2 separate regions of the Homo sapiens genome follow, and region 1 is linked to region 2. The links come from fine-mapping of genetic effects on gene expression. A gene starts in region 2. The other region holds a variant in brackets. All regions are shown on one strand. Distances are between the middles of the regions.

The links. PIP is the estimated chance that this variant, and not a neighbour inherited with it, causes the effect. A credible set is the group of variants that fine-mapping cannot tell apart.
Region 1: its variant is the best candidate, but not a certain one, in a credible set for the expression of MAP3K7 in spleen (GTEx, PIP 0.60).

The regions. Positions count from the first base shown.
Region 1 is chr6:90,932,481-90,937,865 of GRCh38, reverse strand. All of the region lies in intron 3 of LOC107986623 (a long non-coding RNA gene), which reads right to left. Among named protein-coding and RNA genes, the nearest start is that of MAP3K7, 350 kb to the right of the region's middle. The variant G/A (reference allele first, on the strand shown) is at 2,959.
Region 2 is chr6:90,584,822-90,590,206 of GRCh38, reverse strand. It overlaps MAP3K7 (mitogen-activated protein kinase kinase kinase 7), which reads left to right and starts at 3,135. Exons shown (of 17, transcript NM_145331.3): 1 at 3,135-3,443. The coding sequence starts at 3,324. It overlaps LOC124901363 (a long non-coding RNA gene), which reads right to left and starts at 3,413. Exons shown (of 2, transcript XR_007059680.1): 1 at 2,252-3,413. RefSeq lists silencers at 3,003-3,199, 3,196-3,315.

The DNA of each region.
Region 1 (5,385 bases), 350 kb before region 2:
ACCCCCAAGTCAGACCTACTGAAAGGGAAATTTTGGAGATGGAGCCCAACAGTTGGTGTTAACAAGTTCCTCCAGGTGATTCTGATGTTCACTAACGATTGAGAACCACCCAGTTAGAGCAGAAGCTTTGATATCATAAAGACTTGGATTTGAAGTCACTTAATGGTTCTAATCCTTAGTTTTCTTGCCTATAAAATGACTTTGAAAAACAGTAACATCACCTGCCTCAAAGGGTTGCTTTCAAGAAGGGAAAAACGAGATAGACTCTACAATGCCTGGCAGCAGCCAGCTTGAAGACAGAACAATTAAGTCATTTATCAGCCCACTATTTAGGGTAGAAGGGAAGCCTTCATTTAGGGAGAAAACTAAGCTTTCGTCTTTTTCCTGCAAATATCATTCTCGAACAGCCAGCTCAGGGACCCCTGGTATGCTGTGAATCCTTTCAGTTATGCTCCCAAATTTTGTTCAGTGTATGAAATTGGTCCTTGCTACTCAAGTGCATATACTTTTATTACCACGGATGTCAGAAAGAATTTTTTGCTGAGTGGGTCTTGTGATTTAGTAAGAGCAAAACTACAGCTTGCTGTGAGTAAGGTAAAAGACAGTGCACCTTTGCCCAAGAACGATTTCATATTGACTGGCCAGGCAAGAACTTGGCCTCTGGAGCACTGCGGGAGTGTTCTCAGGGCAGTGAAGAGGGGACAGTGACAGGTGGGAGTGGGGGTCCAAGAGGCCAGCGTCAGGATGAGCACTCACAAGGGCCAGGGGCAGTGACCTCTCCATCTCACCCCTCTGAAGGGGTCCACTCTTCTTCCTCATTTTATAGATGCAGAATCTGATGACGAGAGTCATTAAGTAAGGGGCCTAGTGTCACTGAGCCAGTACCCAGAGCTCCATCTGTCTACCCTTCACGGCAGGCCCGTCTAGCTCCCAATCCCTGGGGTGCTATTATGAACACGGTGCCATTATAGTCACACCATAGCGGTGATTGGGTTGAAATTATTGCTGAATTGCTTAGTTTTGTTTTGAGCTTTTGAATTCCTTCAAGTACACCACTAAAATTTCTAATATCCCAAAGTGTGCCAAGAACACAGAAAGGATGATAAGCAGTGGGCTAGGTTTTAATGGTAAGTTTCTACTCAGTTATTCTGCCCCGGTGCCTTGCCTTTGGAAACCACATTGCAAAGCTTCAGCCTCCTTTGATCCTGACTCCCACTAAAATGAGTTTCTCTAAAGCGGGTTTAAAACTCATATTTGTATTCTACCTTGAATGCTTACAGTGACCCATAGTCTCATTTCCCATCTTCCCCTTTGGAATTCACCCTGTGGCTTCTGTTTCCTGCTTCCCCAGTCTGAATTCTTAATTGGCCTTATCTCCCCCTCATCACCTCTGGCCCTGCTGGTAACCAGTCCCTAGAGAAGAGCTGGCAATTGTAACAGAACAGGGAGTGCTTTCCTCTCATTTGCTGGAATGATCCGGGGACTGGGTTCTGCACGCCAGAAATCAATTGAACCCATACAGCTTAGCACTTTGGCAGCTTTTCGACCCCCACCTGCTTTTCCAATATCATCTTATCCGTTCCCTTCTGATCCAATCCATTACATGAAACTGAAGTATACTTCATTTATTAGCTGCTCTTTTAAAATTCTGTTAAGACAGGGAACGGAAAAAGGCAGAAAGAAAAATGCTCGAAAATGGAAATTTTGGTCATTTTGGGAAAGGGGTGTTGAAGTCTCCGTACTTGAGGGGTTTCATTATATACTTCAAAGTAAAATTAACGCTATTGCTGAGTTTTATTCATTCCTTTCAAAATACATATCCATGCTGGCAGCATCCCACCTCTCACTCTTAGTAAACTCGCATTTAAGACTGATTGATCCTCTTATCTTTCACTAAGACTTCTTGGCCTTTGAAGAGCATTTCCTGTGTCATTAAGATTTTGATTTCCAGTTCTTGAAATCGACAACAAACACCACTTTCCTAGTTTTATGGGACAGTTGGGCCCTTGTCATTAGCACACACTTCAGGTTTCTGAACTGACATTTTGTTCAAGAGTATAACAGAAGAGCTAATTATGCTGCATCTCTGCTGTAGAGCTTTTGGCCTTGTAGAGGTATTCAGAACTTCGCAACTTGGGTTGGGTGGTTCTCAGGCCAAGGAAATCCCTATAGTTCGATGACACAATTAGAACGGCCAAGGCCTCCAGGATGTTTATCAAAATTACCCTCAGAATTTATCTCCAGAAACAATAAAAATAGAGATAAAGACAAGGTGAAGTGGGTGGGGTTTTTTTTTCCAAGTATTTCCTCATCAACTTAAATAAAAAGTAGAAGACAGCAAATTATATTCGCAGCTGAGGTGTTTTTTCTCTATTGCACATAGTTATCTGGTTTCAAAAACCAGTCACAGCACACACAATGTCAATTGCTGGAACTTTGGGGAAACAGAATGAGAGCACCTTGTTTTAGGAAATTATCTGTCTTAATTTTGAATCCACCTTAGTCGTCATCACTGGGGATTTGGAGAATGCTAAGCCCCTCTGATTTCTGACCCAGAAGGCATACAGGGGTTTTTTATGCTGAGGTTAATGTCACAACCTACGTGTTGAAAAGCATTTCCGACACTTCTTCTACAAAGTTAATCAGAAAATCCTAGTTCCTCTAGCGAAGCGTTAGCTGAAGGCCTCAAACGTGGCGATTAGGCACCAGCTGCATTTCTCATGTGCCCTCCTGCTGAACTTCCACCCATGTCTTAAAAAGAAGCCTCCAGCATCTTAATCCTAACTTCATGTCACTATTTGAAAGGTTACTATAGTCTAGACTTTCTTCATAATCTTCCAAAACAGAGTGAGTATTTTTACCCAAGCTGGAGATAGGAAGAGAAGAACAAAGCTCTTTTCTCTGTCCATGGCTCAGGCTAATCAAAGTTTCAATCACCTTCCAGCAACTTCCTGAACG[G/A]AAACCAGCCAGGTCTCTCATTTCTTTATCTATCGTGGCCTCGAGATAGCACAAACCAAAGTGCCATGGATTGTTTTCCTTATGATTTACGGAATCTTTCTGCTTCCTCTCATATTCACAGTATCCTCTCTTTAACTGAACAGCAGCCCCTACAATTGGGCGGCAGCATTCCTAAAGATTTAAAAAGTCTACAGCCCGAAAAACAAAGCCAATAGACATTTTTCATGTTAAATTCATGAGCTAAAAGAAACGTACAATGTTCCTCATGATATAATCTTTTTCCTCTTAGAGCTTCTATTCCTAATAGAATTTTTTTTTCAATTGTGATTATTATTTTTGTTTTCAGTAAATGTTACCTCGTCCCATCAGGGAAAGGTGAAACCCAAGACTTTCAGATGTGAATTTATTGTTGCTTCACTTTTCATTATGTGTTTAAATTGATATCTGGTAGATATATTTATAGTCTTGACTATTTCTGTTAAGACAGCAGCAGTATAACTGGCTTAAAACAGAAAAAGTAGAAAATGGTAATCTGTGATTAAACTCACATTCCGTAGCCTTCCAGCCAGCCACAGGCTAAGAGAAAAGGTGGTTTTCAGTTGTAGAGAAAAGAGTCAAGGGACACGGGGCAGGCAGGCTATGGTGGGGGCACTTTGAGGTATTTTAAAGCTGTGTCGGAATGTAATGATAAGCTCTCTCACAGAAGCAGCAAAGATCTGTGAACAATCCCTTTCTCCGAACTGCTTCAATTTATATCCACAATTGGTCATTTACGCTACATGTAGATGTGGTAATTTCCTTGACCATTTTAAAAAGTGAAATCTGCTAAGGATTTTTAAGAATTATTTTGAAAACTTATTACAACACCGGGGCTCATTCAGGGGCACCAGCCCCAGGCTTCTATTTCCATAGTTTCTCTTCACTAACCAAGGAGAGTACAATTGGTGTTCACCTATCAGCTAAAGTGACACATTTTGGTTGGATCCCTGTGAATTTATACCTATTTAATTAGGATTCATATACAATATGCTCTCTCTTCTTAATATCTTCTTTTCTAGCTTTTGATCAAAAAAATGAGAAAAAAGACAAAGCATCTACATTTTTGGCATATTAAAAATATTTGTTCTCATTGACAGTTCTTTCCATGGCAAATGGCATTATTTTGAAAGAAAGCTTGATTTCTTTACCTTATATTTGCTGGGCTTTACAGAATAGGATCCTGTTACCATTGAGGAAATGTTTTGGGACAATAGTTTTTCATGAGCTCCAGGAAAAAGTTATATAAAATTGTCAATCTCAAAATTTACATGAGTATTTTACATTAACATTTTTTCCCATAAGATTTCTCTGTTCTTTCTTCATTGTTAAGCAATTGTCTGTCTTGCAAAAAAGTATTAGCCAGATTTTCATAGTTAGTATTCAGACATTCTGATGCAAAACAGTACAGTTAGTACTATTTCATATGAAACCATTTGGATTTGTATCTGGTAAGATTATTTTTACTCATTTTTTTAGTCCCTTGTTCACAGTACCCATTTAAAGTCATTTATGGATTAATTAATTGACAAATGAATGCGTGCATGCCTTATGGTCCATCAAAATTTTTTTTAGCTTTTTATAGTATATGAACTTTCTGTGCTGTTGCTGTTTCTTTACAAAAAGGCCTTCTCATACTCAGAGGTCTATATACTTAAAGAACTTTTAATAATGTCATCAAAGAAAATGGACACTTTGAATTCAAATTCTAGCTCATTCATTTACCAGCTGTGTGATTTTTGAAGTTAAAAAAAAAGGAATAATAATACCTACATGGTAAGGTTGTTCTCAGAGCCAGAAATAATGTGTTTTAAATGCCTGTCACACAGCAGGCATTCTATATATTGATGTTGGCATTTTTTTAGCACTAGAAAAAAAGTCTTAAGAAACCCTGAGCACCTGCCACACTCACCAACTCCTTCTGAATAAAGCATCCATAAACACTTCCTTAGGCATGATCCTTGGTTTCTGAGACCCCACTGTTTTTCCTAGATGCCTAAATCAAGGGTTAGTATCTGAATCTAAAGCAGTCTGACATGCATTGGCCATCAGCCTGTGGCATCACCTTGTGCGAGAAGAAATTCACACAATAACAAGACTGCAATAAATAAGGACAACCGATCAATCCTATCCTCTCTTCTCTCAGGGAGTTTGAATGTAAGTCACCCACAGATCAGATGTGGAGCAGAGCTGATGTGAAATGGTTTGTGGAGAAAAAGCGGCATGCAGAAGCTCTCAAAGAGCCAAAACAAGAGGGGGAGTTAGGAATAGCATAGAAGCAGATTCAGTAGAAGAGGCTGAAAGAAGGTGACTTGAGAATGAGGAAGTGATGGACAAACCCACTCCAAGGTGCTGCCTCCTAGAGTGGCTACTGCTGTCCCAGAGCATGTC
Region 2 (5,385 bases):
ATGTGAAAAATGAAACTGCTAGTACATGCATTCTCAATGGAGGCAATAACACCTCCACAGGGGGCAAAAACTGGAGAGAGAAAAAATCTTACTCTTTTTACATAGAAAGCACAAATATACATACAATACATAAATAGATATACAGTGTATCTGAGGTATTAAAACTTTGAGGAGGGGCATTAAGATGTCTAAAAAGGCTCCTTAAAAGAACAATAATGAAAAAAAAGATTGAAAAACACTATTGTAGAATATAGCAAATACCACAAAAGGCAGAAGAGAATAATGGAAACTCAATTATTGATGTTATCATCAAGCCTATGATGGAAATATGGAACACTTGTCTGACATATATATGACCCAGAACATTAAAGTGGTGTTACTTTAGTCCCAGTTTCTGCTAAGCCTCCATTAAAATAGGTCCCAGATATCCCTACACCCAAAATGAGCCAAATAAGATCAGAATCTCATTTAGAACAAGCAAAGAGGTGGTGGGAAATGGATTTTGAAACCCTTGTCCTCTCAACCCCTGGAGAGTATAAAAGGGCCAAAATTGAAGACAGAGTTGGAAGTTAGAGAGTAGTTATTAGGGTGCTGACATGAGGGAGAATGGTGGAGGGTGCTCAAACTCGGAGGGACTTCAAGGAATTTACTTAAATAGTTTTGATATGTATCCGGAAACGTGTGGAGACACACAGACTGGTGACTGAAGTTGACATGAAATTCTGAGGTCAAGTTTCTATCCTTAATTCATGAAAGTTAAAGGAAATGCAAAGTCAAAATTGAAGTGAACTGAGAGAGGTTCAGCTCCCCTCCATCATTCCTCTGCATTTAAACTTTATTACTTAGGATTATTTGGTTACAAGTGACAAAAATACAACTTGGACCAGCTTAAATGAAATGGTAATTTACTAGCTCACATAACCAAATCACAGAATGTAAGAGATGGATTGGACCTTGGGAATGACTGAACCCAGAGACATAAACACTGATGAAACTTTCCATCTATTACTAGAAGCTAGGGAAAAGGCGCAGGCAGACAAAAAAGAAAAAAGTAATCTGCAAGCAAGTTGGACAAAAATTGATTTTAGACTGGCATCAATATTAGAAGTCCAAATCAGTGGATAAAACATAGAAGTGTTGGGGTAGAAGATATTCAAAATCATGTAATCAATTCACTTTGAAATGCATCTAGCAAAATGGTAGATGGATGTAAATATGGATGGAGAGATGAGATGCACATATGTATATTATGATAAAGCAAGTATAGTAAAATGTTAAAGGTAGAATCCTGGTGGTGGGCATATAGGTGTTCACCATAAATTCTTTCAACTTTTCTCTATATTTGACATTTTTGTAACAAAATTTTGGGGGGAAAAATCAAGCAGGAGAACTGCATCATGGCTGTGGTAATTAATTAGTCCTTTGTCAAGATTCCAGTCCTAAACTGAAGGTACAGGAAACATATCTTACACTCCAGGGAAAGGGAGGACTGACAAAAGCTATTCATTTGTACAGAATATCTAAGTATTTATTGAGTTCCCACCTGGCAGCAAGATCAAGGTGTTAAAAGGAAATCGGATATAGACCTGCAGAGTTATAGCACAAGGTAAGAAGTGACCATCCTTGTTTGGAAATGCAAGGGGAATGACAGGTGAAAATGACTGTCCCACTGATTATATCAGCTTCTACTGGGTATCAGTGCACCACGCATCATTTCACATGCCCTGATTTCTCACTTGGACAACCAACTGGGTGATGGCATCCTTAAGTGACATAGGAAAATAACATAGGAATATATTTGTGGTGGGTGACAACTTTTGAATTTGCTGTGGTATCTTGAAGTTTAGGTGTTTGTCTAAGTAGAGATGACCAATAGGTCCAGAATTCAGGAAAAATCTTGAGTATTTGGAGATTAGGAGTCATCATTATAAAAATAGTATGAGAAACAGAGACCTTGGGTAAGAGCATGCAAAGAGAGAGTGTACAGTGAAAAGAAATTATCGTTTCTTTCATTTTTTTATCCACTCATCAAACTGTCACTGCGTGTCACTAGAACTACGAATAAAAAGTGACAGAATGTTTCCCAGGAGTTTGTAACTTCTTGATGGTCAAATCCAATGATCTATTTGCAATCCCAAATGTGTTTAACATAATTCCACAGTTAGGCTTTATGTCAAACGGACTATATAAAATTCAACAGTTAGTTTAAAACTAAAACTTGTGCTGGTAGTACAACATGAGCAATACTGACCATCTTGGGGACAGAATGATCTAGTTTGTGAGGACCATAATTGCTTTAAACTCTCAGCGTGTTTTCTCATGTCCTGAAAATGGTGACAAAAATATTCGATTTTCAAGGCGACTGTTGATGATTCATTTACCAATCTAAAGCACTAGTGCCCCGCACTCGTAATCCATAACTTGAGATGAACACACCAAATTATAAATATCTTATTCACCTAATCCGTGGAAAGTTTGTAACACCAAAATATTAACTTCTGTTCTTGATCACTCAGCCTCCATAGTTATTCATGTTGCATGATCTGATTCGCTCTTTTAGAATTTCTCATAGCGTCAGGTACTAGCTCAAAATAACAGGAGCAACTGCTTCTTTCCATATCCCACATTGAGGAAAACACATTTTGCAAGCCGTCTTAAAGAAACAGGTCAACTTAGTTTAGGGATGAAACTTAAAAGTAAGCTTCGTCACAAAAAACACAGTTCAACACCACCTCGCCCGGCTGCAGGCAGCTCAGAGGACAGGAAGTGAGGCCAAGACATATTTCACGCAGCACAGACTAAACCCCAGCTTTTATCTTTCCCGCTGGTCCTTAAGGGACCAACCGTACTGATTTTCCGTCATGTTCCGCGCCACTTCCGTTCGCGCACTTTAATTACGTCAGGCGTCCTCTCTCGCGGTATCATCCGGTTGCTGAGGCCCTGTAATAAAGGTCTCGCGAAATTTGTTCTAGAGGTCCAAGTTTGCTTCTTAGCTTACTCCACCCCACCCCCAACCTGTCCCTCCTTTTCTTTCCAAGTCACAAAATTCTCCCCTCCCCTACCCCGGAGTTTACGGCCCTCCTCCTGTTTCCGATTTCAGCCCGGAACCGGAAGTGTAGTGGGCGGGGCCCGTCGGCGGAAAACGCAGCGGAGCCAGAGCCGGACACGGCTGTGGCCGCTGCCTCTACCCCCGCCACGGATCGCCGGGTAGTAGGACTGCGCGGCTCCAGGCTGAGGGTCGGTCCGGAGGCGGGTGGGCGCGGGTCTCACCCGGATTGTCCGGGTGGCACCGTTCCCGGCCCCACCGGGCGCCGCGAGGGATCATGTCTACAGCCTCTGCCGCCTCCTCCTCCTCCTCGTCTTCGGCCGGTGAGATGATCGAAGCCCCTTCCCAGGTCCTCAACTTTGAAGAGATCGACTACAAGGAGATCGAGGTGGAAGAGGTGAGCGAGGCCCGGCATGGAGACGCCGGTCCCGGCCTGCCCCGCCCCCGCCTCTGCCTGGTGCCGGCTCTGAAGGTGCCTCCCGGGGCCCCTCTAATTCGCGGGACCCTGCGGGGTCCACCCGGGAGACCCCACAGCCCTCAGTAACGTGGGAGTGGGGGTTACTCTCTGAGCTCAACTGCTCGGGAGTAGCTGCCTTTTTTCCTCTCTTGGGTACTCTTGATTTTGGATTTGATATTCCGGTGATAAACAGGAGAATGAACTGGTGAGATAGTGTGGTCCACCAGTTCTCGTATCTGTAAGTAGTAGTTTCAGCGAAGATCGTAGCCGTTCTGGAGTTTCAGTCCGCTGGACGTAATGTTCTTTTTTTTTTTTTTTTTTTTTTGAGACGGAGTCTCGCTCTGTCGCCCAGGCCGGACTGCGGACTGCAGTGGCGCAATCTCGGCTCACTGCAAGCTCCGCTTCCCGGGTTCACGCCATTCTCCTGCCTCAGCCTCCCGAGTAGCTGGGACTACAGGCGCCCGCCACCGCGCCTGGCTAATTTTTTGTATTTTTAGTAGAGACGGGGTTTCACCTTGTTAGCCAGGATGGTCTCGATCTCCTGACCTCATGATCCACCCGCCTCGGCCTCCCAAAGTGCTGGGATTACAGGCGTGAGCCACCGGGCCCGGCCGGACGTAATGTTCTTAATGGCCAAAGATTGTATTATATTCGACTTCTACTTCAGTACCTGGCATGTAGGGGATGCTCAATAAATGCTTGTTAAATTAGTAGATCATCAAGTCTAATAAAGTGTTTCCCTTAGCACCGAATGGTTCTCAATTTCTCCGATACCGCACAGCAATACTCGTAATGTTTAAATGCTCGGCTTTCAGTTGGGCTAATGTAGGTGAATTTCACCATAAGTAACATAGACTGGTCTACGATCAAAAGATGTTTCAAGTAGCATATTCTGAAGAGATAACGAATGATTTCGGTGACAATCAGAATATAATATTAGACTAGAAATCGCTATCAGAAAACCCATATCCTTTCTTTATTCTGCAGTAATTTATTTTAGAACAAGATATTTCAAAGTGACTTTAAAGCGTCGTTTTTCAAATTAACAGGTAAATTGGGTTCTAATGACTATAAAATTTAGAAAAGTAAAAACTGCATATATATTTTTTAAAGACACTTTAGAACTTGTTAAAAACTTTGGTTGAAAATACTATCTCTTACCATTTATTTGCCATTTTTTAAATTTATTAAGCACTTTGCGTTATATAGTCCATGAAAAACCTAGTGAAATATTATAGATTGTCAACGAGTTATGTCTACTTTAAAATTCTAAAATTATTTTTAAGTGTCAGCAAGTTCAAAGTAGTGAGATAACGTTCAACAAATAAATTTTTTTTCCTGTGCATGTTTTGGAAGAGTAATGGATTACTGAATTATATATGTTTTATCACATAAAGTAACTTTAGAGATTATTGAGAATATCCTCATTTTACAAGATAATATGGTGGAAAGAGCAAGGTCTTTGGAGTTAGAGGAAAGTTCAGTGTATCAGATATGCCATTTATTAGCTGTGTGATTTGGGGCAAGTTTCCTAACCCCTTTGAATTTTAGTTTACTCTAAGAAAGGGCTAATAAATTCTGTTTCATTTTATCTGCATAACAGATCTTAGTAGACATTATATGCAAAACACCTACCACAGGGCCTGACACATATTAGGAAACCTAGTTCCAGAGAGGAAATGTGACCTGCTTTAAGGTCATATGGCTAAAAGAAGACCTGTATTTTGAAAAGAGGGGGAAATGTTTTTAGTTTCTTTTTTTTTACATTGAGGCTATGATAAATTCCTTTTCCAGAAGTGGATAGTTGATGCAGCTTTCATGGCTAATATTCTTTTTTAAGAATAAAAATTCAGTGAGTCAGTATACAAGAATTGCAGTTTTT